6 linked regions of the Homo sapiens genome follow. The protein of the gene in region 1 purifies or fractionates together with the protein of each later gene. This does not show direct contact. Each region holds a gene or a part of one and is shown in the gene's direction. Other genes may lie near its edges.

Region 1 (4,811 bases):
AGTTGTGGGTGTAGTTGTGTATGTAGTTGTGTGTATGTACAGTTGTGTGTATGTAGATGTGTGTATATGTTTAGTTGTGTGTATGTAGTTGTGTGTGTGTGTAGTTGTGTGTGTGTTTAGCTGTGTGTAGTGCATGTGTGCAGTTGTGTGTGTATGTAGACGTGTGTAGTTTGTGTAGCAGCATATGTGTGTTTAGCTATGTGTGTGCAGTTTATATGTAGATGTGTGTAGTTGTGTGTGTTTAGTTTGTGTGTGTAGTTGTATGTTTAGTTGTGTGTATAGTTGTGTGGATGTAGATGTGTGTAGTTGTGTGTGTATCTTTAGTGTGTGTAGTATATGTAGTTGTGTGTGTGTCTAGTTGTGTGTATGTGTGTGCAGTTGTGTGTGTGTAGATATGTGTAGTGTGTATGTATATTGAGTTGTGTGTGTTTAGTTGTGTGTAGATGTGCGTGTATGTAGATGTGTACTTGTGTGTGTGTGTATAGCCATAGCTATAGTTACAAAAACTGAGTTTCTCACCCATGGTCATTAGAGCTCAATGGGCATTTTGCATTTCATGCTTTCCCTGGGTGTAGGTCAAAATGAGATCCACTTCGTGTGTTTTAGAGCTGCATGAAAAAGGGGATTCGACCCAAAATACCTTCCTGCATGTTCCTTTACTTCATCTTCACTACTTACTTGGGAGGTAGATGGGACAGGTTGCATCATCCCTGTTTTGTCACTAAGGAAATTGACTGATTTCTCCAAGGTCCCTGGGCAGTCCCAGGATGGGGACGTAGGCTGGTACCCAGACCCTGCCTGGCATCTGCCATGTTGTTTGAACATAGTGCTGCCATCTCCAGCCTGCACCTTCCCGACGCTGCCTGTCTCTGCCTTAGGGAGGAAGGGCCTGTGCCCCAGGGTTCAGCATCCTGGCTGTCTCTGCCTCCCTCACTCCTGCCTCCTCTCCCACTCCCAGGACCTGGCGACTCCCCTGGCCTTTGCCCACAACCCGTCCCGGGTGTGGGAGTTCTACCACTACCGGCGGGAGGTCATGGGGAGCAAGGAGCCCAACGCCGGGCACCGCGCCATAGCCGAGTGTGAGACCCGGCTGGGCAAGCAGGGCCGGCGAGTCGTGGTCATCACCCAGAACATCGATGAGCTGCACCGCAAGGCTGGCACCAAGAACCTTCTGGAGATCCATGGTGAGAGACCCCCAGCCTCCCATTCAGGGAACCAGCTTTAAAACACCTGTCCTGCTGTTTCAGCATCACCTCTGGTGCCTTCCCTCCCTCCCTGCTGGACATCCGTCCTGTCCTATAGGATGCTGTGGCATTTCCTTTGGGGACATGTTAGTGTCCCGTGGCACCTGGGCAGCTGCCTTTGGCCATGGGAGGAGCCCCTGACCCACTAACATTATTCACTTAGCAGTTCCTCCATCCTCGCTGCTCAGGGTGGTCTAAGAGCCAGCAACATTTGGCGTCCCCCAAGAACTTGTTAAAAATGCAGAATCTCAGGCCCCATAGGCCCCACTGAATCAGAATCTGCATTTTCCCATGAGCCCAGGTGGCTGGCGTGCTTTTTATACTGGAGGAACGCTGGGGTGCACAGCTGCGTGACCCTTTCCTCTGTGGAGGGGCACGGTACTGTGAGACAATGGCCTCAATGAGCTGAGGAATAAGAGGCCTGGCCCATTGGACAGCTGGGGCTTGAGCAGGAGCAGACTGCAGCATCTTGGGGTCTCCTGTCACTCCCCCTTCATCCTGGTGGGCACTCCCCACTGAGGCTGTGCTTCTGCCCCGCCCTGGAGCCTCAGAGAGCTGCCAGCTCAGTGCTGGACACTGCACCAAGCCCACCAAGCCTGTGATGTCGGTGGACCCCACTGAGGCTGTGCTTCTGCCCTGCCCTGGAGCCTCAGGGAGCTGCCAGCTCAGTGCTGGACACTGCACCAAACCCACCAAGCCTATGATGTCGGTGGAGTTTGTCTTGGGTCCCTCTGGGCTCCTTCCTCTGTCCTGGGTAACCCCTCACCCCTTCACTCTTGTCTTCTGGCTCCTCCCTTCTTTGCTGTCACCACAAATCTAAAACATCCACTTGTCCACAGTCATAATGGGCAAACTAGGGTTTCCCCCAAGGCCATTTGCATTTAAAGAGTCTGCATTCAAATCCAAGGAATGCATTTCTTATTTTTTAAGCATTTATTTCTCTTAATTTAATTTAATTTAATTTTTTTTTTTTTTTTAGCAATGGGGGTTTCACTCTTGCCCAGGCTGGGGTGCAGTAGCCTGATCATAGCTCATTGCAGCCTTGAACTCCTGGCCTCAAGGGATCCTCCCACCTCAGCCTCCAGAGTAGCTGGGACTACAGGCACATGCCACCATGCCCAGCTACTTTTTAAAATTTTTGTGGAGAGTGTCTCACCATGTTGTCCAGGCTGGTCTCAAACTCTTGGCCTCAAGCAGTCCTCCCTCCTCAGCCTCCTAAAGTTTTGGGATTACAGGCTTGAGCCACTGTGCCAGCCAAAAATGCATTTCTAAGTGTAGCATTTCCAGAAGCAGTGCACCAGTCGGGGGTGTTTGTTTTTGCGTGTGTGTGGTGAAGCTGCCTGCTTTTACTTAGATCACCCTGATAAGGAAAGCGAGGCACTACTCATTTCGACTGTGTCTGTCTTTTGTTCATCAGGAACAGCCAGCCACCTATTAACCGAGCATCTTTTTGGTACCTACATCTGCTGGGTCTGAGCCACTTTCCATGTGCCTCTGCTGATTTCCCTGCAGTGTCAGAATGTGGGCTATGTCATCAGCATAAAACCGAGATGACAATGCCTATCTTATAGAATTGTTGTCGGGATTAAATAAGATCATATATGTGTGTTAGTCAGGACTTTTTAAAATTTCAAACGATGAGAACTCTCTTCTAACTTAGGTTAAAAAAAATCAATGGCATCTTCAGTCTGATGAAGGGTTTTTTTTAAGATGCATCATGTTTTTAATGTGGCATTTAGAATATAATCTGCCTAAACCATGATATACTATTTTATTATCCCTTAGAATTATTCTATACTTAGAGAAAGAGCTTGTTAAAACTTAGACACGTTCTTTAGAAATTATATCTTTCCAGGCATACATAAAGTATGAGTATGATAAACTGGTCCAAATATTTCTCATTATCTAGCTCTTCTAAATGATTCTGAGTGACTCAGAGCACGGATGTCTGTGTTTTCCATGCAGTTTCATGCTCTGTGTCTCGGGAGATGGATGATGCAGCGTTTCCTGAGAGAATGCCCCTCTGTTATAGCTGGGATTCTCATCCAAGCTCCTGACACACCTTCCGCAAGTTCGCTATTGGGCCTGACATGTTCTTACCAAAAGGCATCAGTGGAAAGGCTGTAGACAACAGCCAAAACTTGCTTTCCTTCCTGAAGTGGCCCTTGAAGGGTTTGTTGGCGGAAGGATCCAGGGGCTGAATCTGCCCGGTCAGGCCACGGAGAATAACAACAAAGTCACCCCATTTTTCAGTGTTCTCCTTCAACAAGTCTGTGCAAGCATGATGATGATGTTACAGTCTCATCTGGCCAGTAGCAATTGTAGGACACATCTGAATTTCAGAGATGTGAAAATGGGGAAAAATGTCTATGCTAAAACTGACAAAGTAGGTTTATTGGCTCACAAAACTGAGGAGCCTAGTGGTGCAGCTTATGTCATCTTTCCTCCCGGCCCCTGTCCCCCTCCTTCTTTCAGCTTTGCTCACTCTTTGAGGTGGCCTCCCTTCTCTCTCTGCAATTGATCTGTCTCCACGCGCCAAGGGAGAGTGCCTCCGACGGCTCCAGCTCAGCCACCTGCTCAGAAAATAAACCTCTGGGTAGGCTTGCTTGGTCCACACGCCCACCCTTCTGACCAAACACGACTGCAGAGGGATGGACACCACATGGGGGCCGTGCGCAGCATGTGGCTGAGCTTGTATTTGGGATGTGACCCACAGCCCTATTGGCTCAGCATGCGAGAGAGCAGGGATGGTGCTCCCCAAGGAAGGACTGGTGGGCAGGACGGAGCAGCGCATGTCCACTAGGGTTGAAAGTGCTCTGCACGGCACCAGTTGCCTGGTACCCATTTCATAAACTGTGGCCACCATGATTGCTTCAGCTCAATAAGTGGTGGTTAGTATTAACAATTACTTTTTTCACTTATTAGTTGATTACTTATTTATTGAGGTGCTTTTGTATAAAAGATTCAAGCTTTCTGAAATCGAAGTTAAAATTTTGTAAACATATCCCACGCCATTGAACCTTTGTCAGTCATGTCAATAAATCACGCCCTTAGATTTAGGTTGAGCTCCCTCTACCCTATTGGCAACTTCTGCCCACTTGAACACCACTCCAAGGTCATCTGATGGCACATTAGTCATGGAGTTATTTATTTTTCCTCCAGATTATAAAGTCCTTGAGGGCATATGCTCTTGACTGGCTTAAGAGTACTGCATGCCTCTGTTTCCCATGAAAGCTAAAGCTAGGGTAGGCCCATTTGCTAAAATGAAGTATGGCTCAGTGTGGCGGTGCACACCTATAGTCCCAGCTGCTCAGGAGGCAAAGGTGGGAGGATCGCTTGAGCCCATGAGTTGGAAGCTGCAGTGAGCTATGATCGTACTGCTACACTCCAGCCTGGGTAACTGGGTGAGACCAAAACATGAAATGAAGTGTGAAAAATAAAGTATCTTATACCCTTTTAGACATGGAGAAGGTTGCTCTTGATTATACTAAATTCTGGATTTGCTTCATATGTATTTTTCAGGTAGCTTATTTAAAACTCGATGTACCTCTTGTGGAGTTGTGGCTG
Region 2 (4,579 bases), on another chromosome or scaffold:
GCTCTTTCTTTCACACCCCGTTCTTGGTTTGTACTCTGATGTTTAGTATTTAAATAACCATAATGCTTTTCATTACATATTTTCTTTATAAATGCTGTCTTGGATTTGGAAAAAAAAAAACTACTGGGGTTTGTAAATAGCCCTCCTTAATGTGCACCATTACTATCTATTCCGTTTCATGGTCATATTCTGTCAATAATCTATATACAAACTATAGTTTTTATTTCTGCTCTCCTGCTCTCTCCAGGAATCAAAAAGATCAGAATCTCTTATGGACATACATCATAAAAAGTTAAAGAGTAAGGCTGCTGAAGACAAAAATAAGCCTCAAGAGAGAATACCATTTGACCGTGATAAAGATCTCAAGGTTAATCGGTTTGATGAAGCTCAGAAAAAAGCCCTAATAAAAAAATCTAGAGAACTAAACACCAGATTTTCACACGGCAAAGGCAATATGTTTTTATAAGTAAGTATATTTCAGTGAGGTATATTTTAATACTGATCAATGTGAACTTTTCTAAATACTCTATTGTCTTTAATAATTGTGCTGAAATCTATTTCCTTTTATAATAGATTAAAAATTTTATATTTTTATAAGTAAACAGTGATTTTTGAAAAGTCAGCCTTGTGGGATGAAAAATATGTCTTACTGGAAAAATCCCTCATAATAACCTAATAGGGCATTGCTATTAAAAATGCTAAAATAAAAATTCAGCTTATGAGAAATGGCAAAGGAAGGTGTGGTTTGATACTTGAGTAAATATGCATGCTTTATTAAAGATGAAGAAAGGCTTGCTGGTTGTTTGTATGTTAAACAAAATCCCAACTAGGAAATGTTTGTTGCTTAGAAAGGTCCCCTATAAGTTAAGGTTCAAAACTATTCCAATATTCATCCATAGCCCAATCTGACAAGGGTTCAGAATGGTGATTAAGAAATTACATAAAGCTGGGTGCAGTGGCTCACGCCTGTAATCCCAACACTTTGGGAGGCCAATGTGAGAGGATCGCTTGAGCCCAGTAGTTTGAGACCAGCCTGCTTAAGATGGTGAGACCCCGTATCTACAAAAAACTAACCAGGTGCAGTGGAGCACACCTATAGTCCCAGCTACTCAGCAGGCTGAGGTGGGAGGATCCCTTGAGCCCAGGAATTCAAGGCAGCAGTGAGCTGTGATTGTGCCATTGCACTCCAGTCTGGGCAACAAAGTGAGACCTCGTCTCTTTAGAAAAAAAAAAAGAGGCCAGTGGCTCACACCTGTAATCCCAGCACTTTGGGAGGGTGAGGCGGGTGGATCACCTGAGGTCAGGAGTTCGAGACCAGCCTGAACAACATGGTGAAACCCCATCTCTATTAAAAATATATATATATAAAAATTAGCCAGGTGTGGTGGCACGTGCCTGTAATCTCAGCTACTTGGGAGCCTGAGGCAGGAGAATTGCTTGAACCCGGGAGGTGGAGGTTACAGTGAGCCGAGATCGTGCCACTGCACTCTAGCCTAGGTGACAAGATCGAGAGACTCTGTCTCAAAAAAGAAAGAAAAAGAGAAGAAAAGAAATTACATAAAAGCTGAGGTTGCTTCTTAATATCTTTATGATTTTTAATTGTATTAAACCTATATCAATATTCAAATGTGATTTTTGAGGAAAATATGTTAAATTTAGAAATATTTTCCAACTTACTGAGTTTTCTTATTCTTACCTCAGGGGGATTTCCCTGTGCAATGAAGAAAAGTTGAAGAATACTCTTTGTCCATCTTTATTTCTTTGTTTTTGGCTTCTTAAGATTAGAGATTACTTTAATCTTAAAAAACATACAAATTTACCTTGTTCTGTATGTCCTTTTAAGGTCATGTGGAAACATAAAACGAATGTTTTTTATGTAGAACAGAATATTCTATGTGCCTTTAGCTTCTGTGGAAGTATGGGGAATTATGGGCTTTTCTTCAAATAATTATTTTAAGAGGCTTCCATTCCCCCTGATTTTTGTGGTGTCTCACAAGTACCCTCTAAGGTCTGGTCAGGACTGACCACCAAATCTCTACCACAGCCTGGACCTCCTTGTGAAATATACCTAACCTGCCCTAGAGTCAGTGTGTCAAGTCCTTACTGTAAATCCATGACTTTGAAATTTGTTGTTTTTTCCCTTTAAACTGCAGCCAGTGAATACAAATTTACTTGAAAATAGAGGGTATGGGGTTTTGCCTGTTTTGTAATCAGTTTGCTTGTTTTAGCACTCAGGGCTTTTTATTTGTTATTTAATTTTTTAATTGTTTTTAAGTCAGAAAGATCTCTGGGTTATCTCATGTGCTAAGGAAAAACTATTTTGCTTTTTCCAACTTTAATAGTTAGTATTTCTAGGGGAGGCAATCAAGATAAGATATGCCATTAACTGTTAGCATTGTGAAATCTGTAAGACTCAATCTCTGATCTCAACCAAAGCTTTCTGAGTCCTGGAACTTTGCTTTGGGACAACTTTACTTTACCCATTTATATGCTGTACTTAACAGTTTGTAGCTAATTTATGGGGTCATATCTTTTTTTTAGCTAATTTACGGGGGTCATATCAGTCATGAATAGCCTTTTTTAAAAATTTAATAATCCCTGAATACAAAAATGGAAATGGAAAATTTATAATCATAACCCCCCTAATTGGGAGTATTATAAGTTTGTAATGCTTTAAGCACTGCCTCTTAAGATGATAAATTTATAAGATGAGAAATTCTATTTAAACTATTAAACTATTGTTAAATAAATGCCAATTCTATAAGTTATATTTTCTTGCAGATTAATCCCAATTGTTCCACTAGTATTCTAGTTTTGATGAGACACAAATTTTTGTTGTTGTTTATTTTTGTTTTTTTGAGAGATGGAGTCTTGCTCTGTCACCCAGGCTGGAGTAGAGTGGCGTGATCTCAGCTTACTGCAACCTCCGCCTCCTGGGTTCAAGCGATTCTCCTGCCTCAGTGTCCCAAGTAGCTGGGACTACAGGCGTGCACCACCATGCTCAGCTAATTTTTGTATTTTTTAGTAGAGATGGGGTTTCACTATATATTGTTCCAGGCTGGTCTCGAACTCCAGACCTCAGGTGATCTACCTGCCTCGGCCTCCCAAAATGCTGGGATTACAGGCATCAGCCACCATGCCTGGCCAAGACACAAATTTTTAATGGAAAAATATTCTGATTCCCAGTTCATGTAAGCTTTATGAAAATTGAGTATATTGTTTATATGATGGTACAAATTATTCTTCCTCTAATAATAGCAGTACAGTATATTTTTTCCATAGCATCAGTGTAAACCATAGCAAACTAAAGGAGCATTGCTATTAAAAAGATGAATTAGCTGGGCGCAGTGGCTCATACCTATAATCCCAGCACTTTGGGAGGCCGAGGTGGGTGGATCACCTGAGGTCAGGAGTTCAAGACCAGCCTGACCAACATGGTGAAATCCTGTCTCTATTAAAAATATAAAAATTAGTCGGGCCTGGTGGCGGGTGCCTGTAATCCCAGCTACTCAGGAGGCTGAAGCAGGATAATTGCTTGAACCTAGGAGGCGGAGGTTGCAGTGAGCCAAGATCACACCATTGCATTCCAGCCTGGGCAACAAGAGTGAAACTCCATCTCTAAATAAATAAGTAAATAAATAGATGAATTTTTCTCCTAAGCAAATTGAAAAAGCTTCTTGTGTACTCAAAATTGAACAGAGCTACCTTTTGACTAAAAATGTCATTTTTAATGAGCAGTATTTTCTGAACACAAAATTTTGTACAAGAGTGTCTCCATTGCATTAATTTAATTTTGTTATAATTTTTTCCCAATGAAAGGAAAAAAGTATTTTGTAGCTCCTCTTCCTTATGTAAATTCTTAACATATATTTTTGAGAAATTTGCATTTTTTAAAGTAAAATTGTTATCTTTGGATACTTACTTTTCTTTGTTTTCCTCATTTAAAGAGAATAGGGATATTTCTGTATTATATATTTACTGTTTCATCCCTCACCTTTGGAGTGACCATGACCTTGGCATGAAGGAGAGAAACCTCTGCTTTCCGCCTATTGCTTCCAGGAGTTACTACCTTACTGGCCTTGGAGATAATGCTCTTTTGTGCCAACCTGAGGATAATTTTAACAAAATGTAAGGCCAGTTTCAGAGGTTGTTTTGCCCCACAGAGAGACTAATCCCAATACAAGAATATTGACAACAAAAGGACAAAGTAGTTATTGCACAGGACGGAAAGGTGTCTTTATTTCATCCCCTCCCCACTTCCAAAGATGCAAAAGGCCTAATTGAATCAAGTCTCCTTTCCATCTGGCAGGAGACATTTTAATAAGGACTTTTTAATTTCCTACATTTCTTGGCCAAGTGTCATAGGAATGTGGCCTCTTTTGAAATTTAAAAATGAAGAAGAAAAAAAGAGCAACACTAAGTTAATATAATGGAGCAGATACTTTTAATGTTCTTACCATTGAATATGCCATTTAAGTTTGTTATACTTGAAATTATATGATTTTTGTCCAGCTCTCTAAATTGTCATCTCCAATAGATTTAGATGCTTCAAATAGTAACCACATTACTGGTAAGTAAA
Region 3 (4,811 bases), on another chromosome or scaffold:
TCCCACCTCAGTCTCCTGAGTAGCTGGGACTACAGGCACACCTGGATACATTTTTTTGGTATTTTTTGTAGAGACGTGATTTTGCCATGTTGCCCAGCCTAGTCTCGAACTCCTGTGATCGAGCAGGCGCAAGCAATCTACTGTTGGGCCTTGGCCTCCCAAAGTGCTGGGAGGCCACCACACCCAGCTTTTTTTTTTTTTTTCCTCTTCTTAAAAGAGACATGGGCAGGGTGCGGTTGCTCACACCTGTAATCCCAGCACTTTGGGAGCCTGAGGTGGGTGGATCACTTGAGGTCAGGAGTTCGAGACCAACCTGGCCAACATGGAAACCCCGTCTCTACTAAAAATACAAAAAATTAGTCAGGCCTGGTGGCACACACCTGCAGTCCCAGCTACTCAGGAGGCTGAGGCAGGAGAATCGCTTGAACCCAGGAGGCAGAGGTTGCAGTGAGCAGAGATTGTGCCACTGCACTCCAACCTGGGTGACAGAGTGAGACTCGGTCCAAAAAAAAAAAAAAAGAGAGACGTGATCTCTCTGTGTTAACCAGGTGGACTTGAATTCCTGGGCTCAAGCAGTCCTGCCTTAGCCTCCTGAGTAGCTGGGACTACAGGCACATACCACCATACCTGCTTCCCTCCACCCCCATAAGGTGAATTCATTTATTGCCCTTGGGAGTTAGGGGGCGGGAGCATTTTGATTTTGATTTTAAATGAAAATTTGAGCTGCTTGGGAGGTAAACAGTGGGTACACATGGACATACGGAGTGGAATAATAATTGATCATTGATAATAATTGATCCCATTTTGAATACAGAGATAGACCCCTTTTGAATATTTGTAAGTTTTTGCCTGTCAATTTTTTCTTTTTTTTTTTTTTGGAGACAAAGTCTCACTCTGTTGCCCAAGCTGGAGTGCAGTGGCGTGATCTCAGTTTACTGCAACCTCCACCTCCCGGGTTTAAGCAATTCTCCTGCTTCAGCTTCCTAAGTAGCTGGGACTGCAGGCACACGCCACCATGGCTGGCTAATTTTTGTATTTTTAGTAGAGACAGGGTTTCACTGTGTTGGCCAGGCTGATCTCGAACTCCTAACCTCGTGATCCGCCCACCTTGGCCTCCCAAACTGCTGGGATTACAGGCGTGAGCCACTGTTCCCGTCTGCCTGTCAAATTTTTTACCTTTTTAAACTTTTATTTATTTATTTAGTTGTATTTTTAGTAGAGATGGGGTTTCACCATGTTGGTCAGGCTGGTCTTGAACTCCTGACCTCGTGATCTGCCCGCCTCGGCCTCCCAAAGTGCTGGGATTACAGGTGTGAGCCACCGCGCCCAGCCACTTTTATTTTTATTTTTAATTTTTTTTTTAAATTTATTTTTGTCACCCAGGTTGGTTGGACAGAGCAAGAGACAGGATCTTGCTCTGTCACCCAGGCTGGTGTACAGTGGCATGGGAAGGCGTGAGCCTGAGAAGGTGTGAGCCACCTCACCTGGACTTTCTTATACATTAATTAATTTTGTATAGTTTTATACCTGATGTTATTTGAAATTAGGTAACATGCTGTAGTCTTTGCAATAATCCAGAGACACTTGTGTGATAATTGAGTCTCACTCACCATAACAGTAATCTTGGCAAACACAGTTGAATACACTAAAAGCAAAAAATTATGTTGCCATTGGTTTCCCTTTCTTGCCCTTCATTCTTGTGCTGAAATTAAAGTTCTTAGAGTTTGAGCCCTCCTTTTCCTAAACCAAGAGGATTATTCATAACATAGTTTAAAGGATAATTTTGTTGATTTTTTTTTTCTAAACTCTTGAATAATCTTGCTTTAAGGGAAACTTTGGAATAATCCTTTCAGCAAATTGGTGTAGCAGGCACTTGTGCTGGACTTAGGAATCCAGTCCTTTTAGAAAACAGTTATGTCAGAAGTTCCTTTATTGTACAGCTCCAAGTATTTGCTTAGCACTTAGTAAAACGATAATGTATATGTATTATTATTCTTCCAATACAAGAACCACATGACCTCTTTTTTTTTTTCTGAGACCGAGTCTCGCTCTGTTGCCCTTGGCTGGAGTGCAGTGGCGCGATCTCGGCTCACTGCAAGCTCCGCCTCCTGGGTTCACGGCATTCTTCTGCCTCAGCCTCCCCAGTAGCTGGGAGTACAGGCGCCCGCCACCATGCCCAGCTAATTCTTTGTATTTTTAGTAGAGATGGGGTTTCACTGTGTTAGCCAGGATGGTCTCGATCTCCTGAACTCGTGATCTGCCCGTCTCGGCCTCCCAAAGTGCTGGGATTACAGGCATGAACCACTGCGCCTGGCCTGTGACCTCCTTTTACTAGACAGTTTGTCTTTTAATTTGACAAATAATGAATTTAATTCAGCTTTGTTTATAACATACTGTCTTGTATATTGGAAGAGTTTTATAAAAACGTTTAAGAATGAGGAGAACTTTTGTAGCAATCACGTCTCAAAATGTATCTACAAGTTTAGCTACCTTTTGGCTTTTTGCTGTATTAACAGTTATACTATTGAAAGTGTATAGCTGAGCAGGGCGTAGTAGCTCACATCTGTAATCCCAGCACTTTGGGAGGCTGAGGTGGGCGGATCATGAGGTCAGGAGTTCGAGACCAGCCTGGCCAACGTGGTAAAACCCCCGTCTCTACTAAAAATACAAAAAAATAGCTGGGCATGGTGGCGGGCGCCTGTAATCCCAGCTACTGAGGAGGCTGAGGCAGGAGAATCATTTGAACCTGGGAGGCGGAGGTTGCAGTGAGCCGAGATCGCGCCATTGCACTCCAGCCTGGGTGACAGGACTAGACTCCGTCTCAAACAAAAACAAAAAAATAAAATACAAAAATTAGCTGGGTGTGGTGGCACACACTGAGGCAGGAGAATTGCTTGAACCCAGGAGGCGGGGGTTGCAGTGAGCCGAGATCTCGCCACTGCCCTCCAGCCTGGACAACAGAGCCAGACTCCATCTCAAGGGAAAAAAAAAGTTTATTCTTGAAAGGTCACAGAAAAACTACCATCTGAAATATCCAGCTGGGTATGCTAGCTATAGTCCCAACTCGTTGGGAAGCTGAGGCAGGAGGATCACTTGAGCCCAGGAGTTCCAGACCAGCATGGGCAACATAGCAAGACCTCCTCTCTACTAAAAATTAAAAAAACGAGCCTGGTGTGGTGGTGTGCATCTGTGGTCCTGGATACTCAGGAGGCCGAGGTGGGAGGATCCCTGAGCCCAGGAGATAGAGGCTACAGTGAGCCAAGATTGTGTTACTGCACTCCAGCCTGGGTGACAGAGCAAGACCCTATCTGAAAAATAAATAAATAATTGGCTGGGCGTGGTGGCTCACGCCTGTAATCTTGACACTTTGGGAGGCCGAGGCGAGTGGATCACTTGAGGTCAGGAGTTCGGGACCAGCCTGGCCATCACGGCAAGACTCCATCTCTACTAAAAATACAAAAATTAGCTGGGCGTGGTGGTGCATGCCTGTAATCCCAGCTACTCGGGAGGCTGAGACAGGAGAATCGCTTGAACCCAGGAGGCGGAGGTTGCGGAGGTTGCAGTGAGCCGAGATCACACTACTACACTCCAGCCTGGGCAACAGAGCGAGACTCTGGCTTGAAAAAAATAATAAAATAAAAATAAATAAATAAATATTAAACTCTCCAAGTTTCTGACCTCATTGTTTTGACCCCATGAGAGGAAGTATACCTCAAAGACTAATCATGTCTTCATGCCTTCAACTGCAGTGACTGCAGTCGGTTCTCAGACTTCTTAATTTTAATGCCCTCATGTTAAAGGAAAATGAAATTCTAGTTTAGTGAAGGTTTGCAGGAGTTTTCTGGCCACTTGGTGATTTCTTATAGGTCGACAGAGAATAAATACTTTATAGCTTCATCTATCTAGGCATCATTTAAATTTAGGACTGGTTTCCTGGGCATCGAATTAAACAAAGATAATGTAGCAATACTTCCATAGATAACTCTTTTCAGGCAGTTTTGTCAGTTTATGTATTACGTAAATGTCATTAACTTCACTTGATTGCATCTGATTGTATTTTGGAAAATCCTGGACATGAACATGTATTTAAGTCATTATTGCAAATTACAATAAAATCGTGCATGCATTAGTAGAGTACTACTTGTTGCACAACAGAAGTCATTGGAAGCGTTGCTGAGCAACCTCAGTGAGAACGAGCTACATTACCAATAAACATTTCTGGATCTTATTTACTTGTTTATCAAGTAGAACTAATTTCTTGCAGGACAGAAATTAGGAGCTCATTGTAGCCTTCATTTAATCCCACAAAATCCCCGTTAAGTGTTAAGTGCCCTTGCTAAGGGTAGATTCTTAAACTTAACACCTAGTTGATATTTGCTATTATCTAAATTATTAAAGTCAAGATTTGCTTAATGGTTAAGTTTTTTTGTTTTAATCCAGCTATGTTAGATACTAAAGAAGGCTTCCCCACAACCCATATGCATCTGCTTTGACTGGTGGTTTCTATCATCCTACAAAGACTGTGACTTATTGGTGAGGGCAGCTGGACAACTCTGAGAGCAACTTAGAGAAATCCATCTTGGGCACACTCTATAAAGGAGCTCCTTCTCTGCAAATAGCACCCCAGATAAGTGCACAAAAGCAAGATACCCTCGTGGACCTACACGTCCTCCCGCTTTTCAACACCCTGATGCCTGAAGGTGAGGTCTCTTTCCTGTGTGTCTTAGAAGCCATGAGCACGCTTAGGTAACTAGAGCCCTGCCACAGCCTGAGCAGCACAGCACACATCTGCAGGCTTTCCTGCCAGACCT
Region 4 (4,811 bases), on another chromosome or scaffold:
CCAAATGAAGTCTTACAAGTCTGAGAATAAATTTTCTCTCCCAGATCCCATGAAGCTCTAACAAGTTCTAGTCTGAATCATTCTGATTACTGGCCACAGCCTCTTTTTTTTTTCCTTCTTTCTTCATCCTCTTTAGATGTATGGTGGCATGAGAGGCATGAAGGGATTGGTCTATGAAACATCAGTTCTTGATCCTGATGAGGTAAGACATCTTCATGTCAATTACTAATAATCATTGAGTTTGTGCAAATACGCAAACCGTGGATTAGACCAGTAAGGGTAAGCACAAAACAGAGCACCTAGCTTCATATATTGGAAGGTAGAGAAGACATATGTATGGAATAATTGAAGAACAAATTTACCTTTTAAATATATCAACTAGTAAAAATAAAAGTACAAAACCAGAGGTAAGTTATGTGAAGATTTAAGCTTAATTTAAAGTTCTGTTCTGGACTGGGCGCAGTGGCTCACACCTGTAATCCCAGCACTTTGGGAGGCTGAGGCGGGCAGATCATGCGGTCAGGAGGTTGAGACCGTCCTGGCTAACACGGCGAAACCCTGTCTGTACTAAAAACACACAAAATTAGCCGGGCATGGTGGCAGGCACCTGTAGTCCCAGCTACTCGGGAGGCTGAGGCAGGAGAATGGCGTGAACCCAGGAGGCGGAGTTTGCAGTGAGCCGAGATCGCACCACTGCACTCCAGCCTGGGCGACAGTGTGAGACTCCGTCTCAAAAAAAAAGAAAATTAAAAATTGTATTCTGGGCTAGGCATGATGGCTTGCCCCTGTAATCCTAGCACTTTTGGAGGCCAAGGTGGAGCATTGCGTGAGGCCAGAAGATCGGGACCAGTCTGAGCAACATAGCAAGACCCCACCTCTACAGAAATAATAATTAACATAAAAAGTTCTACTCTAACTTGTTGTAAGGTCTGATGAGTAAGACCAGTCGTGTGACTTCTAGGCTATAAACTTGAGTTGTAATTCTCTCTCTCCTCTCTCAAGGGCATCCGTTTCCGAGGCTTTAGTATCCCTGAATGCCAGAAACTGCTACCCAAGGCTAAGGGTGGGGAAGAACCCCTGCCTGAGGGCTTATTTTGGCTGCTGGTAACTGGACATATCCCAACAGAGGAACAGGTAAAGCAGAAGGATATTATTAGCTCTTCTCATTCCCCTTCTTCATTGCCTTTCTCTAATCTCAGACACTTAATGCTGATCCGGCATTTATAGAGATGCGTAGTGAAGGGAAGGAATCAGCAGAGTTCTGCTGTATAAATGGATTGGGTTGACCTCTCTTGGGTTTTCTTTACTCAGATGTTGCTGTCCTTTTTTATTTTTCTCCTTCCTTGTCCTTGCTGGTGTTCTGAGCACTGTCTCTTTTTCCACAGGTATCTTGGCTCTCAAAAGAGTGGGCAAAGAGGGCAGCTCTGCCTTCCCATGTGGTCACCATGCTGGACAACTTTCCCACCAATCTACACCCCATGTCTCAGCTCAGTGCAGCTGTTACAGCCCTCAACAGTGAAAGTAACTTTGCCCGAGCATATGCACAGGGTATCAGCCGAACCAAGTACTGGGAGGTAGGAAATTTGGGTGGGGTGATCGGTGTGTGATGGGGATTCAAAGGACTTGAGTGTGAAGGGAGGGAAAAAATACAGAATCTTTAGAAAAATTACCTCTGAGTTAATCAGAAACTAACTTAACAGATTTTCATTGGAGGCTTGTTTTTTGTCAGTTGTTGGAATTACAAAGCTAAGTAGAGCATGGTTTCTATCACCAGGACTGTTTGTTTGGTTAGGCTGACACACGTGCAGAAAAAAGAAATTATTAAAATTCCATAGTCGGCCGGGCACAGTGGCTCATGCCTATAATCCCAGCACTTGGGGAGGCCAAGGCGGGCAGATCACGAGGTCAGGAGTTCAAGACTAGTCTGGCCAATATGGTGAAACCCCATCTCTACTAAAAATACAAAAATTAGCCAGGCGTGATGCCGGGCGCCTGTAATCCCACCTACTCAGGAGGCTGAGGCAGAAGAATCACTTGAACCTGGGAGGTGGAGGTTTCAGTGAGCCGAGATCGCACCACTGCACTCCAGCCTGGGCAACAGAGTGAGACTCCATCTAAAAAAAAATTCCATAGTCTTGCTGTAACAGAGGTATGTACACATGGCTGTTGAAACGGAAAAGAGACCTAGGTAGGTGGCTCACACCTATAATCCCAGTGAGTCATGATGCTGAGGTGGGAGGATTGCTTAAGGCCAGGAGTTTGAGATCAGCCTGGGCAACATAGTGAGATCCTATCTGTACATAAAAAAGGAGAAAACAAGAAAAGAAAAGGATGTGACTTAACTGCAGGGTCCCTGAGGAAGGTTTCACAGAGCAGTCTCATGCTAGCACCAGAGGGTCACTTTCCCTCACTATCTTCTTCAAATACAGAAAACTTTGAGAAATCTTACAAGTTGGGAGAACAGCAATTGCAACTCTGGAGTCTAGGAGGACTAATGCCAGTCAGTCATGTTCTCGGCTAGCCAACCTAAGATACCCATCAGGAGTGGGAGAGTGGTTAGTATCCTTGGAGTAGGCTCCAGATCCAGAAACAAATGAGCTTTATTCTCTGAAAATGAAAAGTGTCCTTAATAGTTTACAACGCTGGTTGGGGTATGGAAAGATTGTTTCTTATCCCAATGCATAGTACATAATTCCTTCCATCCTCTTCTAGTACCCCACAAACTCAGAAACACTGGGTAAAAGTACAAATGATCTGGCTAGGTTTACAGGAGAATGTACCATTTTCTTTTGTTCCTTATTTGGAGATAGGTAGTATAGGAACAGAAAATTTTCTTTTTACAAAGCAGGTACATTAAATGATTTTTGGCCAGGAGGTGCCAGCCACCAGGAAGGCCCTAAAGAGTTCACTGTGGTGCAAGACACAGAAGAGCATGACCCACTGCTCTGATGCAACCACCTTGGGTCCTTGGCAAATCTAGATTGATTTAGTTGGTCAATATTAATTTGGCACCAACTGTGTGTAGAGAATTGTGTTTGCAGTTGAGGAAGACAGAGAGCATTTAAAATTGATATTAACTTGGTTGGCATTGGGGAGTTGGTATCAGAATGATGCAAAATATACACATTCACACCACATAAAGCATTTATTTATAAAGGCTTATTTATAAACACTTTAGGTGGTATGAATGTGTATATTTGTACCTGCACACATTAGCAGGTACAAAAGGTCATATAATCTTAATATTTTGTTTTTCATTTTATTTATTTATTTATTTTTTTGAGATGGAGTCTCGCTGTGTCACCCAGGCTGGAGTGAAATGGCATGTGAACCACCGTGCCCAGCCATTTTTATTTTTATTTTTTTAGAAATAGGTCTCTCTCTAATCACCCAGGCCAGGATGCAGTGGCATGATCATAGCTCACTGTAACCTTGAACTCCTGGACTCAAGTGATCCTCCTGCCTCAGCCTCCCAAGTAACAAGGACTACAGGCACATGCCACCATGTCTAGCTGGCATTACAGGCGCACACCACCACTCCTGGCTAATTTTTTTGTTTTTTTTTTTTGTTTTTTTTGGGAGACGGTGTCTTGCACTGTCACCCAGGTTGGAGTGCAATGGCACGATCTCAGCTCACTGCAACCTCCACCTCCTGGGTTCACACAATTCTCCTGCCTCAGCCTCCCGAGTAGTTAGGATTACAGGCGCACACCACCACACCCAGCTAACTTTTTGTATTTTTAGTAGAGACAGGGTTTCACTATGTTGGCCAGGCTGGTCTCGAACCTCTGACCTCGTGATCTGCCCACCTCGGCCTCCCAAAGTGCTGGGATTACAGGCTTAAGCCACCACGCCTGGCCTTGTCTTTTTAATAGAGTTTCACCATGTTGGCTAGGCTGGTCTAGAACGGCTGGTCCAGAACTCCTGACCTCAGGTGATTCGCCCACCTCTTCCCCAAAGTGCTGGGATTATAGGCGTGAGCCACCACCCTGGGCCTTTTTGTTTGTTTGTTTTGTTTTGTTTTTTGAGATGGAGTCTCGCTCTGTTGCCCAGGCTGGAGTGCAGTGACACAATCTCAGCTCACCACAACCTCTGCCTCCTGGGTTCAAGCGATTCTCCTGCCTCAGCCTCCCCGGTAGCTGGGACTACAGGTGCGCACCACCACGCCTGGCTAATTTTTGGTTTTTGCTTTTTTGCTTTTGTTTTGTTTTTTTTTGGTTTTTTTTTTGAGATGGAGTCTCGCTCTGTTGCCCAGGCTGGAGTGCAGTGGTGCGATCTCAGCTGATTGCAAGCTCCGCCTCCCTGGTTCAAGCAATTCTCCTGCCTCAGCCTCCCGAGTAGTTGGGACTACAGGCACCCGCCACCATGCCTGGCTAATTTTTTGTATTTTTAGTAGAGTCGGGGTTTCACCGTGTTAGCCAGGATTGTCTCGATCTCCTGACCTCGTGATCCACCCGCCTCAGCCTCCAAAAGTGCTGGGATTACAGGCGTGAGCCACCGCGCCTGGCCTTGTGTTTTTAATAGAGACGGGGTTTCACTGTGTTGGCCAGGCTGATCTTGAACTCCTGACCTTGTGATCTGCCTGCCTCGGCCTCACAAAGTGCTGGGGATTATAGGAGTGAGCCATGGTGCCCAGCCTTCTTGAGCTTTTAAGGAGTTGTTTTTACATATACCTTAAGAGGATGATCTTCTGCACAGAACATTTCTTCTATAATAATTTCCATTAACTCTAGATGAATAGTGTAATCTCTTGAGTTGAAAGAGTTTAACTAGCTTCTAGGCCTCTAATTGACTTAAGGTCACTCAGAACA
Region 5 (4,811 bases), on another chromosome or scaffold:
GTGGATCACTTGAGGTCAGGAGTTTGAGACCAGCCTGGCCAACATGGTGAAACCCTGTCTCTACTAAAAATACAAAAAATTAGCCAGGTGTTGTGGTGCACACCTGAAATCCCCGCTACTTGGGAGGCTGAGGCCCGAGAATCACTTGAACTCGGGAGGCGGAGGTTGCAGTGGGCTGAGATCATGCCACTGCACTCCCACCCTGGGGGACAATAGCGAAACTTCGTCTCAGAAAAAAAAAAAATTAAAAATAGCTGGGTGTGGTGGCATGCGCCTGTAGTCCCAGCTACTTGGGAGGCTGAGGTCAGAGGATCACTTGAAGCCAGGAAGTCAATGCTGCAGTAAGCTATGATGGCATCAGTGCATTCCAGCCTGACCAATGGAACAGGACCCTGCCAAGAAAGAGAGAGAGAAAGGGAGGAAGGAACGAAAGGAAGGAAGGAAGGAAAGAAAGGAAAGGAAGGAAAGAAAGGAAAGGAAGTAAGTAAGGATGGATGGATCCAGGTGCTCTAAACCAGCAGTTCCCAAAGTTTTTGGCACCAGGGGCCAGTTTCATGGAAGACAATTTTTCCACGGGTGGCAGGGTGGTGGGCAGCGGGGATGGTTTTGGGATGAGTCAAGTGCATTACATTTATTGTGCACTTTATTTCTATTATTATTACATTGTAATATATAATGAAAAAATTATATAGCTCACCATAATGTACAATCGGGGGGTCCTGAGCTTGCTTTCCTGCAACTAGACAGTCCCATCTGGAGGTGCTGGAAGACAGTGACAGATCATCAGGCATTAGATTCTCATAAGGAGTATGCAACCTAGATCCCTCGTGTGCGCAGTTCCCAGGCATGAGCTCAGGTGGTAGTAGTGCTCACTCACCTGCAGCTCTCCTCCTGCTGTGTGGCCCAGTTCCCAACAGTCCGTGGACCTGCACTAAAGGCTGTGGCCTGGTCTGCTGACCTCTCTCCAGAGCCCACGGTACTAGTCCATGGCCTGGGAGTTGGGGACCCCTGCTCTAAGCAGTGAGGGAGCTGATTTGCAGACGGGGGAGTGGACACCGGGCAGCTGGAGCCCTGGCTTTCTGCCACTGTCTCCTGGTGAAGGGCGGGCCTGGCTGGGAGGAGAGGGCCCCCCTCCAGCCTCCCCAGGGGCATGATGCGCTGTGTGTCCCTGCTTCTAGATGCCGACAAAAGGATCAAGGTGGCGAAGCCCGTGGTGGAGATGGATGGTGATGAGATGACCCGTATTATCTGGCAGTTCATCAAGGAGAAGGTAGTGCCCCCTCCTGAAGTGGGTGGCTCTCCAGGTGGGCTGGCCAGGGATTGTTCTGTCCCACAGGGTCTTCTGGACTGCAGGTCCCTAGGACCCCCCCGTTGTCCTGGTAGGCAGCAGCAGCTCTGTTTCTCTCCCTCTGTCTACCCTTCTTTCACATCTGGTCCACTAATTGTTCAGAAGTCGTCAGGCGGGGGCCTGTCCCCAGCAGTCCGTGTTGTGATGGTGCCAGATCCCACACGTTCTGTCAACTTTGAGAAGCTTCAAGGTTAATCCTGTATCATTTCCATCTTGATCCCCTACGTTTTGCCTCACTTCTTGAAAAGGAGTGAAAAGGGAACAGGGCTGGTGTGTAGGGCAGTGACCCAGCCTGCAGTTGTGACGAGCCACCATGGCAAAGGGGTCCCAGAGTGGCCGCTTGGCTTCTCCAAAGTTGCCGTGGTCTATGTATGTCCAGGAGAGCATGTAGTCCTTGTGAAGGCCCCACACTGTGTGTGCGTTCATGGGACAAAGGTTGAGAACTGTCACTTCCAACTGTAAGATCTCAAAGCACTTGAGAAGAGGAAACCAGTTGTATAGAGAAATCTAGATGTACTTGGGGTTGGGGTTTGGCTGAGTTGATGGGCCATGTGAGGGGGGCACACAGGCACAGTGGAGGAAGAACCCTCCAAAAGACTGCGGCCTGGCCTGCCAACCTCTCTCCAAAGCCCCAGCCTCTGCCAGCTCTGGCCAGGCCCCACTGAGAAATGGCTGACTCCAGCTTTCTGCTGCGCCCCTCCACTGGCCTTCACTCATCCCTGTTTTGACTGACTGTCCCCTGCCATGGCCTGCAGACTTCTTATCCTGCCCTTTGTTGTCATGTCCCTGAGTCACTGGGGTGACGCCTTGCTCTGGCCCTCTGTCCCCAGCTCATCCTGCCCCACGTGGACATCCAGCTAAAGTATTTTGACCTCGGGCTCCCAAACCGTGACCAGACTGATGACCAGGTCACCATTGACTCTGCACTGGCCACCCAGAAGTACAGTGTGGCTGTCAAGTGTGCCACCATCACCCCTGATGAGGCCCGTGTGGAAGGTGCGAGGGTGTGGAGGTGGGCGGGCCAGGGAGGGTCACAGGCTTCTCCCACCGGCCTCTCCAGACTTGGGGTGGGGCAGTTGGCCATGTCACTCATCTCGGGACTGGGAGGTTGGGAGGCTCCAGAGCTGGGGCTTTCCTGAGGCCAACTGCACCTGAGGCCAGTCTCCCTGTGTGTGCCTGGTGGACAGTGGGGCCTCAGAGGTCACCTTTGATGAGGCTGGGGCAGGCGTGGGTAAGGGGCTGGCCTCAGGTTCCACGGTTAGGGCACAGCAGAGCTGAGAACAGAATCCATGTCTTCCATCTCCCAGGCCAGTGGTGTTTCTGCTTCACTCTGGCTCTGACAGTGGTAGGTGTCATCGGTGACAGGGCTGAGGAGGAGGAGGAGGAGGAAGGTAATGCTGATGTGGTCACAGTAAGGATGGCTTCTTTGGGCAGTAGTCCATTCTGGCGTGGACAGTCTTGCAGGCAGGTATGCAGAGAGATTGTGCAGAGGAGTGCTGTGTGTAAGGCCTGTGTCCTTCAGAGCCTCAGCAGCCTCTGGGGAACATTGCTGTTGCCCTCCTGCCACTGGCTTGGCCTTGCAGGTCTGCCTCTGTCCCCATGGTCATGCAGGGTCACTGAGAGGTGCCCCCACCAGGCCTAGACTGGCTTCTGGTCCTTGGCTGTTGGGGCCGCTCTCGAGGGTTCCATGAAGTCACAGCAGTGTGTGTGCAGAGGGGCCAGGTTTGGATAATTCGAGAAAGGATGGTTGAGGAGTTTTCTGAGCTCTCTCTTCCTACTTTCCACAGTTGGAGGGAGCTGGCGGAAAGTACTCGAGATACATCTGCAAATTCCCCAGGCCTGCCCCTGTCCTGCAGGTCATGCCTGACCCACAGCACTGGGATCATTTGAGTGTTGAGCTCTTCATTTCACCTGAACCTTGGGAGTTGTGTATCCCCATTTATGGACAAGGCAGGAGAGGGTCACAGCCTTAGGAACTGGGGTGGCGTTGGGGCCAGGACCGGAGCATGTGGAGTGGGCAGTGTGTTGTCAGGCTTCGTCAGACAAGTCCTTCCCCCGGACTGTACTCCCTCCATGTGTGATGTGGGAATCATAATGGCCAACAGAGCACTTAGCATGGACCGGGCACCGTTCTAGGCCCTTTACACACGAGCTCATTTCGTCCTCACGACAACACTTAGGCTGGTTATTTTTCCAGTAATTTTTTTTTACAGCTTTGGTTGAGCCACTTTTGTAAGCCTCACCATTAAAACTGGCAGACTTGCTGGGCATGGTGGCTCACACCTGTAATCCCAGCACTTTGGGAAGCCGAGGCGGGTGGATCACCTGAGGTTGGGAGGTCGAGACCAGCCTGACCAACATGGAGAAACCCCATCTCTCCTAAAAATACAAAATTAGCTTGGTGTGGTGTCACATGCCTGTAATTCCAGCTGCTCGGGAGGCTGAGGCAGGAGAACCGCTTGAACCCAGGAGGCAGAGGTTGTGGTGAGCCGAGATCGCGCCATTGCACTCCAGCCTGGGCAATAGGAGCAAAACTCTGTCTCAAAAAAAAAAAAAAAAAAAAAAAAATTGGCAGACTCCAGAGCCCACACATTTGCACTCTAGACTCTACTGCCTTCCTCATGAAGAATTTTAGGACCCCCGTCTGGCTGTGTTGTTGCTTGGGGTTCAAATTCTGGTTGAAAGATGGCGGCTGCAGTGGGACCACTATTATCTCTGTCCTCACAGAGTTCAAGCTGAAGAAGATGTGGAAAAGTCCCAATGGAACTATCCGGAACATCCTGGGGGGGACTGTCTTCCGGGAGCCCATCATCTGCAAAAACATCCCACGCCTAGTCCCTGGCTGGACCAAGCCCATCACCATTGGCAGGCACGCCCATGGCGACCAGGTAGGCCAGGGTGGAGAGGGGATCCACTGACCTGGGCACCCCCCGACTGGAGCTCCTCGCCTAGCCATCCTCTTGTCTCTGCAGTACAAGGCCACAGACTTTGTGGCAGACCGGGCCGGCACTTTCAAAATGGTCTTCACCCCAAAAGATGGCAGTGGTGTCAAGGAGTGGGAAGTGTACAACTTCCCCGCAGGCGGCGTGGGCATGGGCATGTACAACACCGACGAGGTGAGGCTGGCTTGGGCATCCTGGGCCCCTCCTCTCCCAGCTTGTCTCTTCATCTCTGTCTCGTGGCTTTCCTTTCTTCTGTAATGGCCTCATTCTTAGGCCACAAAGAGGCAGAAATGGCCACCAGGGCTGGGCATGGTGGCTGACACTTGTAATCCCGGCATTTTGGGAGGCCAAGGCAGGATTGCTTGAGACCAGAAGTTTGAGACCAGCCTGGGCAACAGTGAGACCCCATCTCTTGAAACAAAAAGAAAAGAAAAGAAAAGAAAAGAAATGGCCACGAGCAGCTCCAGGCGTACTCCTGCCTGCTTGGCTACCCTATCAGAAGAGAATGCCTCTTTATCCCC
Region 6 (4,811 bases), on another chromosome or scaffold:
GGCCAGGCTGGTGTCAAACTCCTGACCTCAAGTGATCCCCCCACCTCAGCCTCCCAAAGTCCTGGGATTATAGGCATGAGCCTCCACACCTGGCCTTCAGCTCAGTTTGAATTGGAAAGTTGTTTTTTTTTTAAACTATTGAATTTTGAGAATTCTCTATATCTTCCTGTCTTAGTCCATTTTTATTGCTATAAAGGAATATCTGAGGCTGGGTAATGTATAAAGAAAAGAGGTTTATTTGTCATGGTTCTGCAGGCTGCACAAAAAGCATGGCACCAAAAACTGCATTGGGTGAATGCCTCAGGCTGCTTCTGCTCTTGGAAGAGGATGAAGGGGAGCTGTTGTGTGCAAAATCAGATGGCCAGAGAGGAAGCAAGAGAGAGAAAAGAAAGGGCCAGGCTCTTTTTAACAACCATGTCTCATGGGAACTAAGAGTGAGGACTCATGCATTCCCTCTGAGACTGGCACCAGGCTGTTCATCAGGGATCTGCCCCCGTAATTCAAACACTTCCTACCAGGCCCCACCTCCAACACTGGGGATCAGATTTCAACCTGAGACTTGGAAGGGCCAAACCATATCCAAACCATAGCACTTCCAGGTATTAGTCCTTTGTTGGATAGGTGGTTTGCAAATGTTTTCTCCCAGTCTCATAGCTTGTCATTTTATTCTCTTAAGAGGGTCTTTCATATAGGAAAAGTTTTTCTTTTGATGACGTCAAATTTATCAGCTTTTGTTTTTATGGATTGTACTTTTGGGGTCAAGTCTAAGAACTCTTTGTATAACCCCGTATTCTGAAGATTTTCTCGTATGTTTTTTTCCCGAAAGTTCGATAGTTTTATATTTTATACTTAAATCCATGATCCATTTTTTTTTTGTTTTCTTGAGACAAGATCTTGCTCTGTTGTTACCCAGGGCTAGAGCATAGTGGCACGATCAAGGCTCACTGCAGCCTCAACCTCCAGGGCTCAAGTGATCCTCCTATGTCAGCCTCCCAGGTAGCTAGGACTATGGGTTGCACCACCACAGCTGGCTAATTTTTTTCTTTGTTTTTTTTTTTTATTTTTTGAGACAGGGTGTCACTCTGTCACCCAGGCTAGAGAGCAGTGGTGCAATCATTACTCACTGCAGCCTCAACGTCCCAGGCTCAAGCGATTCTCCTGCCTCAGCCTCCCAAGTAGCTGGGACTATAGGCGTGCACCACCATATCCAGCTAATTTTTATATTTTTTGTTGAGACAGGGTTTTGCCATGTTGCCCAGTCTTGGCACATTTAATTTTTTAAAAAGTTTTTTGGTTGGGCCTGATGGCTCACGCCTGTAATCCCAGCACTTTGGGAGGCCGAGGTGGGCAGATCACGAGGTCAGGATATCGAGACCATCCTGACTAACACAGTGAAACCCCGTCTGTACTAAAAAACACAAAAAATTAGCCGGGTGTGGTGGCAGGTGCCTGTAGTCCCAGCTGCTTGGGAGGCTGAGGCAGGAGAATGGCATTAACCCGGGAGGAGGAGCTTGCAGTGAGCCAAGATAGCGCCACTGCACTCTAGCCTGGGTGACAGAGTGAGACTCCGTTTCAAAAAAAAAAAAAAAAAAAAATCTGTAAAAATGGAGTCTATGTTGCTCTGGCTGGTCTCGAACTTCTGGGCTCAAAAGATCCTCCCACCTTGACCTCCCAACCTGCAGGAATTACAGGTGTGAGCCACTGCACCCAACTTCGTGATCTATTTTGAGTTAATTTTTGTATAAGGTGTGAGGTTTAGGTCAATGTTCATCTTTCAACTTTTAATACTAGTTGTTCCAGCATCATTTGTTGAAAGGCTGTTTGTGATGTTTTGAGTTGGCTAGCTCCTTGATATCACCTAAATCTTATCAGTAGTCCATTTCCAAGCTTCATTGCAAGATGACTTGCCAATCAACTAATCAAGCTTGTCATTAGACAGAAAAATCTCTTTCCTATTAATGTAGAGTATAAGGGCTGAAAGTTCAGGTTTTGGAACCAGTTCCTGGGTTTTTAAAACTAGCCCTTCTGCTTATGAAGTAACTTCGTAGCTTAAAACAACTGTCTGTTTAGGTCACAATTCTGTGGGATGGTATTTTGGACTGGGCTCAGCTGCACAGTGGTTCTGTGTCTGTGTCAGGTCTCAGATTGACTTAGGGCTGATTGTTGGGGATGAAGGGGCCTCTGCTGGGATGATACATCATGTACATTCCCTGTGGCTTCTCATTCTCCAGCAGGCTGTTCATTGCTGCTTTGCATGATGCTTGCAGGGTCCCCAGAACAGGAAGCATGGTAGCTACAAGTCCTCTTGAGATGTAAACTCAGAATTTATGCACTGTTCCTTCTGCCACATTTGTCAAAGCAAGTTACGGGGCCAGCTCAAATTTAAGAAGTTTGGAAGATTGACTCACCTGTTAATGGAGAAGCTGCAAAAGGATTGTGGCCATTTTTGTAATCTGGCAATGCTGGTAAATTACTCAGTTACTCTGAGCATCAGTTTCCTTATTTATAAAATGGGGATAATAATAATAATGAACTCATAATAATACCTAACTTATGAGGCTTAATTCATGAGAATTCAGTAAGATGATGATGATGATGATGATGATGATGATGATGATGATGATGAAGGTAGAATATGGAAAAGCTCAAACTATTTTTCCTCTGCTCTCACTCCATAACAACAATCAACACAGAAGACTTCTGTGACCAAATGTACGGGGTTGCAGTGGACATCAGTTGGGTATCCTCCAATTCAATTCTGACACTGTCTCCCTGAGGACAGCCCACAGGTTGAGGGCTCAGTCCCTCAAGATCATCCCCATCTTCCTAGTAGTCCTGAGTCCAGGCTTCTGGAACTTCTGACTGACTGGCTTCAAGTTGGGGTTCCCACAGTACCCTCTTTGGGCTTGATTGATTTGCTAGAGTGATGCAGAGAACTCAGGGAAACACTTAGATTTACCAATTTATTACAAAGGAAACAGATGAAGAGATATGTAGGGTGAGGTGTGTGGTAAGAGGCACAGATCTTCCATGCCCTTCCGGGGCACGCCACCCTCCAGGAACCTCCACATGTTCAGCCATCTGGAAGCTCTCCGAACCTTGTCCCCTTGGACCTCTTATGGAGACTTATTGGATAGGCATGATTGAAGCATGGGCAACTGTGTCGAAATGTGATTGAACAAAAAGAATGTGACCTGATACTAATAGACTGAGTGGGGTAACCCAGCAAGGCCTGTCTGTTCAGATTTTGTCTTGGTCTTCCTGTGCAATATTTCTTCCTCCAAGGTATGGGGCAGGACCCTCTCTGGACTGAGGGTCTTACAACCCACAATCAAATTAGAGTCCTGCCTTGAGTAGGTGAAAGGAGTTCAGGAGAATACCAGAGAGATTCTGTTTCCTTACACCAACATTATAACAAAAGACTGTAAAAAGGATTATTAGAGTTATAAGCCAGGGACCATGGATATATATGTCATGTCACAGTAAGTAACACTTTTTTTACAGTACCAGTTAATATTCATTGAGTATTTTGTGCCAATCTCTGTTCATGCATGAACTTGTTTTATCCACCCTACCAACCTTATGAGATAGTTAAGGAGACAGCAAGTAAGTGAAGGGGTTGAAATTTCACTCAGGCAGTCTGGCTCCAGAGCCAACACTTGTCCTTTTTACTCCTGTAGAAGGTGTATGAATACTTAGCACAACTCCTGGTATATAGTAAGTGTTCACTTCAGTATTTTTATTGATACTTATCCTCATTAGACTCATTCACAGAAGGAGGCACTTTCTAATTGTTTCCCTAGGTTTTTGAATTTGGGGATTTGGATTTTTCTGGAACGTGGAGCTCTTTCACTGACCATGATAAGCAGAATAGCAGAGGGAAAAAAAAAGAAAAGAAAGGCAAAATGAGAACGCTTGTGGAGATAAACAGAGAAGGCAATGGAAGGCCAGAGAGAAAAAGAGTAGTCATGTCTGGGTCCCTTCTTGTTGAGGCCTGGAACACAGCCTCATTGGTTACTGGGCATAAGGATTCTGATGCTGAAGAAGTAAAGGGTTCTCCTCTGTCAGAGTGGTAAGAGTATAATCCGTGGCCCTTAAGAAGAACATGGACAACCCCTCCCATCCCCCACCATGCCACATCTGTACACACATACACTTCAGTATGCCCTCATACCTACTAAGAGGGGACAGATTTTCTTTGGAACTTAGAGCCTAAAAGTTCCTTAGAAGATGGGAAACAATTATTTCTCTAGAAGCCTTGAATTTTCCTAACTAATCAAGGCCTTCTCAGTTTTCAATATGGACCCTAACAAGTATAATACATTGTAGAACATTAAAAAAATACCCCCAAGAAAGGTAGGGTCAGCCTTGGAAGGTAAAAGGCGTTGTTCAATAGGAAACCCAACAAGCCCTGAGTCCCCTGAAGCTCTCCTTTGTGCTAGAACCTACTGGATTTGACTGAGTCAACTGCATGAAACCTTGTTGTTAGTGGTGACCTCCTCTTGAACCCTAACAGGCCTTATCTACTGCTGTTACCCTATTGTCTCCAGCCAGAATGACCCTTGACTACCTGGCACTGAACCATGCGACCCACCCTCTTCTCCTGATACAGACTGTGGGTTAGCCTCCTTCATGCTAGCCTGGCTGCTGGATTCTGATTGGCTTCTACCATTTGATCACCTGGACAGACATGCATGCCACTGCCTGTGTTCCTGAGGTACCCTCTCAGGCTGCTCCACCCATGCTCACCACCCTTCCAGGTCAGGATAGGCCCTCCAGCAGACAGGAGAGAAAGCCAGAAAGCCTAGATC

What was found.
Region 2: the proteins of SIRT5 (region 1) and GPALPP1 purify together in Homo sapiens (co-immunoprecipitation; one large-scale study listed by IntAct). This does not show direct contact.
Region 3: the proteins of SIRT5 (region 1) and UNK purify together in Homo sapiens (co-immunoprecipitation; one large-scale study listed by IntAct). This does not show direct contact.
Region 4: the proteins of SIRT5 (region 1) and CS purify together in Homo sapiens (affinity purification with mass spectrometry, with the first as the bait; one study listed by BioGRID). This does not show direct contact.
Region 5: the proteins of SIRT5 (region 1) and IDH2 purify together in Homo sapiens (affinity purification with western blotting, with the first as the bait; one study listed by BioGRID). This does not show direct contact.
Region 6: the proteins of SIRT5 (region 1) and ALDH18A1 purify together in Homo sapiens (affinity purification with mass spectrometry, with the first as the bait; one study listed by BioGRID). This does not show direct contact.

The regions. Positions count from the first base shown.
Region 1 is NC_000006.12:13,590,711-13,595,521, forward strand, and holds part of SIRT5 (NAD-dependent protein deacylase sirtuin-5, mitochondrial), read left to right. Parts: intron 1-958; coding exon 959-1,184; intron 1,185-4,766; coding exon 4,767-4,811. UniProt on the Homo sapiens protein: NAD-dependent lysine demalonylase, desuccinylase and deglutarylase that specifically removes malonyl, succinyl and glutaryl groups on target proteins.
Region 2 is NC_000013.11:45,027,538-45,032,116, forward strand, and holds the end of GPALPP1 (GPALPP motifs-containing protein 1), read left to right. Parts: intron 1-247; coding exon 248-466; 3' UTR 467-2,768; downstream 2,769-4,579.
Region 3 is NC_000017.11:75,787,320-75,792,130, forward strand, and holds part of UNK (RING finger protein unkempt homolog), read left to right. Parts: intron 1-3,467; exon of another isoform or gene 3,468-4,811. UniProt on the Homo sapiens protein: Sequence-specific RNA-binding protein which plays an important role in the establishment and maintenance of the early morphology of cortical neurons during embryonic development.
Region 4 is NC_000012.12:56,279,183-56,283,993, reverse strand, and holds part of CS (citrate synthase, mitochondrial precursor), read left to right. Parts: intron 1-136; coding exon 137-202; intron 203-1,002; coding exon 1,003-1,134; intron 1,135-1,385; coding exon 1,386-1,574; intron 1,575-4,811. UniProt on the Homo sapiens protein: Key enzyme of the Krebs tricarboxylic acid cycle which catalyzes the synthesis of citrate from acetyl coenzyme A and oxaloacetate.
Region 5 is NC_000015.10:90,088,012-90,092,822, reverse strand, and holds part of IDH2 (isocitrate dehydrogenase [NADP], mitochondrial isoform 1 precursor), read left to right. Parts: intron 1-1,178; coding exon 1,179-1,270; intron 1,271-2,178; coding exon 2,179-2,344; intron 2,345-4,075; coding exon 4,076-4,236; intron 4,237-4,320; coding exon 4,321-4,464; intron 4,465-4,811. UniProt on the Homo sapiens protein: Plays a role in intermediary metabolism and energy production. It may tightly associate or interact with the pyruvate dehydrogenase complex.
Region 6 is NC_000010.11:95,646,136-95,650,946, reverse strand, and holds part of ALDH18A1 (delta-1-pyrroline-5-carboxylate synthase), read left to right. Parts: intron 1-4,811. UniProt on the Homo sapiens protein: Bifunctional enzyme that converts glutamate to glutamate 5-semialdehyde, an intermediate in the biosynthesis of proline, ornithine and arginine.